Linked DNA regions of Homo sapiens: region 2 is linked to region 1. Evidence: fine-mapped expression QTL. Tissue or cell type: thyroid. Region 1 holds a variant in brackets; the other region holds the start of a gene. All regions are shown on one strand. Distances are from middle to middle.

Region 1 (2,840 bases):
CCAGCATTTTGGGAGGCCGAGGTGGGCGGATCACCTGGTCAGGAGTTTGAGATCAGCCTGGCCAACATGATGAAACCCCGTCTCTACTAAAAATACAAACAAAAATTAGCCGGGTGTGGTGGCGTGCACCTGTAATCCCAGCTACCCAGGAGGCTGAGGCAGGAGAATTGCTTGAACCCGGGAGGTGGAGGCTGCAGTGAGCCAAGATTGCACCACTGCACTCCAGCCTGGGCAACAGAGCGAGACTCCGTTCTCGGAAAAGAAAAAAAAAAATCAATTAAAAAAAATAGCATGACCTCATTGCAAACAAAGCTTCTGGTAAAAAGTTGAAAACAACTGAGCTACTGCCTAATTTTAAAGATGGAGAAACTGAAGCCAATTGGAGCGAGAAAATAACTGGCCCAAGGCTACCCAGCAAATCTTTTTTAAAAAATTTATTTATTGGCTGGCTGCGGTGGCTCATGGCTGTAATCCCAGCCCTTTGGGAGGCCGAGGTGTGTGGATCATGAGGTCAGGCGTTCGAGACCAGCCTGGCCAAGATAGTGAAACCCCGTCTCTACTAAAATTACAAAAAATTAGCTGGGCCTGGTGGTGGGCGCCTATAATCCCAGCTACTCGGGAGGCTGAGGCAGGAGAATTGCTTGAACCTGGGAGGCGGAGGTTACAGTGAGCTGAGATCGTGACACTGCACTCCAGCCCAGGCGACAGTGCGAGATTCCATCTCAAAAAAAAAAAATTATTTTTTGGTAGACATGTTGTCTCGCTGTTACCCAAGTTGATCTCAAACTCTTGGTCTCAAGGGATCCTCCTGCCTCAGCCTCCCAAAGTGCTAGGATTACAGGTGTGAGCCACGGCGCCTGGCTCCCAGCAAATCTTAACAGAGCTCTGTGGCCTGGCTGGTTCTGCGTGTTCATCTCATCCTTGTCTCCTGGGTCCACTGAACCCCCAGCCAGAAGGTATGCTCCTTAAAGCTGTGAATCAAGCCAGGTCCCCGGGTCTTCTTGAATGCTCAGAGCTTTTCCATCAATGGTCAAGAAACAGATTCTGGGGCTCGGGGCGGCTGGTTTCTCTGGGCCCCTAGGGAGTCCCTGGTTAGTCGGTGTAGGTACAGTCATTTCTCTCTCTTGGGAGGTTGCACTGTGTCTGGGAGGCACAGCCCCTTCTCATCTGCCTGGTCCTCGCCTGAACAGTACCTTCCTCTCCCCAGTCATCCCTGAGCTAGACTGTAGCCCCTAGGGACCCGTCTCCCAATGGGCCCCAGCTCTCCTCCCTCTCTCTTCTTCCCTTGGGGCAGCCAGAAGTCCCCGCTCATAACTCCCACACGAATGAGCCTGTCTAGGGACAGAGGGAGGGACCTGAGTGACATTTTAATTATGCCTCTAATTGCTTTCCAGGGAGATGAGTGGGGAACTCACATTTCTCTGTGGGTGCTCAGGGGAGAGTGCAGGGTTTCCACCAGGAACTCAGCCACATTGAGATCCCCAA[G/T]ATTTCCCCAGATTTCCTGAGAGCAAGCGGGGGCTTCAACAAGCAGTGAGCCAGCCCTACGCAGACCAGGGCTCCCTTCTGAAGCTGTCCAGAAAGAGGGGAACATGATTCAAGGGAAGGAGGTGGTAGGGCAGGGGCAGGGCAGTGGGTTCAGGGGCCACTAGACCCTCACCCCCTGACTTTATATCCCGAGGTTTTGATGTGCCCAGGAGTGGTGGGGTGAGAAGGGCAGGAGTTTTGAATGAATTCTGGGCATTAGAGAAGGCGGCCTCGAGGCTTATCTGATCATCTTTCTCCATCTGGAAAATGGGGATGTGGAGCTTCTATCTCCCTGAGAAGTGAGGTTGAACTGAGGACCTGCCACTTGTAAGCTGATTTTCCAGGCTTAACGGTAAAAGGGGAAAGAGGAGGTGGTAGCCCCGCTCCCAGCATCATGCAGAAACTGCCTTCAGGGCCAGCCACTTTCTGGTGGTGACAGTTCCGTGCACCAGGACACCAGGGGGCTGGGGAGAACACAGTCACTCTCATCCTAATCACAACTGTATAAAAAGCCCATGTCGACCGGCACGGTGGCTCACACCTGTAATCCCAGCATTTTGGGAAGCCAAGGTGGGCGGATCACTTGAGGTCAGGAGTTGGAGACCAACCTGGCCAACATGGTGAAACCCAGTATCTACTAAAAATACAAAAATTAGCTGGGTGTAGTGGCGCACGCCTGTAATCCTAGCTAGTTGGGAGGCTGAGGCAGGAGAATCGCTTGCACCTAGGAAGCGGAGGTTGCAGTGAGCTGAGATCACACCCCTGCACTCCAACCTGGGCGACAGAGTGAGACTCCATCTCAAAAAAAACAAAACAACAACAACAAAAAAAAAAAACAAAAAAAAACAAAAAACCAACCCCCTCCCCCACAAAAAGCCCATGTCACTGTTTCTGTGCCTCAACCCTCTAAGAGTGGCAGGATACCCATTTTACAGAGCAGGAGAGGGAGGCACAGAACAGCTAAGCGACCAAGTGCCAAGGGCTTCCAAGAGATGGCAGTTAGGGACACCTGAGTCCCCAGACTCTGAAGGGGCCTGCCCAGGCAGACAGCATCGCAGGAAGGGCGGGTCCTCACGGACAGAGAGACAGAAGCCACCTCAGGCCCCCCTGGACAGCTCTAGGACCTGGGTCCAGACCCCACCCCCATCCTGAAATAGCCCTCCCAAAAAGCAGAGACAGACACCAGGCGTGCTTTAGGGCTTTTTTTTTAATGTTTCCTCACTGTTTTGACAATATCATGAAAAAAATCAGTTTAGAATCTGGAATTGGCCTGGACGGGATTCGAGGGCAGCTGGCGGGGGCTGCATAGCCCCTGA
Region 2 (2,645 bases), 20 kb before region 1:
TCACGCCAGATCACTCTAGCCTGGGCAACAGAGCGAGATTCCATCTAAAAATAAATAAATAAAATAAAAATAAAATTCCGTTCCATCCCAATTTTCCCTCCCCAGGTGCAAATTCGACACCCTATCCCAGGCCAGGCAGAGCCCCTGCTGGGTGTAGCTCAGACAGACCCTACACTCACCCAGCTTGGGGCCCAGGCCTGTCTGCTAACTCACCTTTCTCACAGAGCCCTTTAGTGAAGAAGTTGCACACAGCTGAGGCCGACTCTGGAAGGAGAAGAGGGAACGGAGAAGGTAGCTTCCCCAGAGGCTGCAGCTGTTCCGGAAGCCTCCACCTCCATCGGCATGTCCCACCTAGACCTCCCCCAGGCTCTGGCCTATGGGATCCCAAATCTGGGCCCTGTAGAGGTTAACCTGCAGAGCCAGCCAGCAGACCTCAACCCTTAACCCCCCAACTCTGAAACAGAGGAGCTCGAGGGGCTCAAGCCTGGCCCAGGAGCTCGGGAGGCCAGTGTGGCTTCTCTCAATTCACCGTCTCTCTGTGCCTCTCTTTCTCAGTCTGGAAAATGGGTTGCCCCGAAGCCACAGAAGAGAGAGACAGAGAAGGGGCGGTCGCATCAGGGAGTTGAGCAGAGAGGCCTGTAGAGAAGGAAGGGGGAGGGAGGCTGGGCGTGGTGGCTCATGCCTGTAATCCCAGCACTTTGGGAGGCCAAGGCGGGCGGATCACGAGGTCAGGAGATTGAGACCATCCTGGCTAACATGGTGAAACCCGGTCTCTACTAAAAATACAAAAAATCAGCTGGGCGTGGTGGCGGGCGCCTGTAGTCCCAGCTCCTCGGGAGGCTGAGGCAGGAGAATGGCGTGAACCCAGGAGGCAGAGCTTGCAATGAGCCGAGATTGTGCCACTACACTCCAGCCTGGGCTACAGAGCGAGACTCCGTCTCAAAGAAAAAAAAACAGAGAAGGTAGGGGAGGGAAAGTGGCCCCACCCTCACTCACTGTCCATGCCCTGGAAAGGCAGGAGCCCAGTGCCCTTCTGCATCTCGACATCCTTCTCGAAGGCAAAGGTGAACCGCTCTAGCCCCGCAATGACCTCTTGCATCTTCCGTCTCCTGCTGGGGCTGCGGAAGCTGCTGGAACCCAGGCAGGTGGGCCCAATATAGCTCATCAGAGGCCCTTAAGGGGCCAGCGCCCAATGCCTCCCCCTTCACCCCAGGGTGCCAGTGGCCAGGTGACTGCAGGGGACGCTCCAGCCTGGGCTGTACAGGAGCAGGGCCCAGCTGCCTCACCCGGCCCACCCAGTGCAGGGGCAGACACCCCAGGGCCCCTCACCCCCACACTGTGTACACAAGGCTCACTCGGATAGGGAGGGATTCGCAGAGCCCCACAAACTGCTTATCTTTGCATGTTACCGAACACAAACGTGGCGTGCACACAGACATTACCAAACCTGGGCTCATACTTTGTCCATGAAGACACAGCCACAGGTTAGCAAAGAGTTGCACAAACCAACCGCAGCAAGGCTGTTATTCTGCCAGAGCTGGGGGTGGTGGGGGTTTGCAGAGGGAGGGAGCCGTCCCACCTCCCCGCTTCTTCCCATGAGGGAAGGGGTCTCCCTCTGGGGCCCCTGACACCCCTTTTCTGGCCTGAGTGACAAGCCCCGAGTGAGCTCTTCGTGGGAGACAGGGAAAAAGGAATGAAGAGGAGAGGAACTGAAACAGTTGGATGAATGGCGCTTTGTTTACCTCGCACACAATCGCCAGCTTGGCGGGAGGGCGGAACCGACCAAGGCCAGGGCGGCCTCCCAGCCAGGATTCCACAGGGCCACCCAGTGCCACCCCACCCCTGAGAAAGTGCTTTATAAATGAAATCTCTATGCAAATGTTGTTTTATTATTATTACACCACCCCTGCCTGCAGGGCTGGGGACATCTGACAATGCTTTCAAAGGAGCATGTTAGGGCTCTAATTAGACCAGGTTCCCCCTCCCCCTGCTCTGGCCCCAAACTGGCCTTGCCTCTAACTAGAGCTGCTGTTCTCAGTCACATTGGCTTTTAATGCCCATAGAACCAGAACCCATACGCCCTCCTTTCTGGGTGCCCAAACCCAGCAGGGAGAGGTGGGCAGCCCCGCAGGCTCTCAGCTGGGCCAACATGAACTAGCCTGCTGGCTGTTGTTCCCCGTGGCTGTTGCTCCTAGATCTGTTCTTTTGAACTCCAGATCAGAAAAGAAAATAGCTGGAGAGATAGACACCTGGAGCCGAGGTGGGACTGGGAGGAGCAGGGACGAGATCCAAGAGTTTCCAGAAGCTCAGGCCTCTGACTGCATCCTGGGAGAGGCAGAGGGACCCAGCTCCAGGGCTAGAGGGTGGGGCCAAGGGGGTCCCTGGGGTAGAAACCCTGGCTTCTCTTGGCCTTAGTTGTATGCGTTGATTAGTAGTCCCAAGAATGCATTCATCTGTCAACACAGGCTCATTAAAGGCTCACAGAAGCCTGGCAGCGCAGGCAGGACTGATGAGGGAATCAAAGCCCAGGGAGGCCAAGACCACATGGTTTGGGAGGCGCTATGGATGGGGTTCACATCTAGGTCTCTTGATGACTTCCTTCCCTAAACATCCCTGAGCATCTCTGCACTAGGGCCACGTCCCTA

Direction of the effects. Alleles are on the strand shown, and positions count from the first base shown. SD is a standard deviation of normalised expression in the study named.
With allele T in place of G in region 1, the expression in thyroid of the gene that starts at base 1,161 in region 2 is lower (moderate effect, 0.42 SD a copy in GTEx).

Evidence for each region. PIP is the estimated chance that this variant, and not a neighbour inherited with it, causes the effect.
Region 2: CPSF4L starts here. The variant in region 1 is fine-mapped to the expression of CPSF4L in thyroid (GTEx, PIP above 0.99).

What each region holds. Positions count from the first base shown.
Region 1 is chr17:73,280,911-73,283,750 of GRCh38, forward strand. CDC42EP4 (CDC42 effector protein 4) reads right to left here. Exons shown (of 2, transcript NM_012121.5): 2 at 2,714-2,840. Among named protein-coding and RNA genes, the nearest start is that of CPSF4L, 20 kb to the left of the region's middle. RefSeq lists an enhancer at 855-984. The variant G/T (reference allele first, on the strand shown) is at 1,486.
Region 2 is chr17:73,260,720-73,263,364 of GRCh38, forward strand. It overlaps CPSF4L (cleavage and polyadenylation specific factor 4 like), which reads right to left and starts at 1,161. Exons shown (of 6, transcript NM_001129885.1): 1 at 997-1,161; 2 at 214-264. The coding sequence starts at 1,099.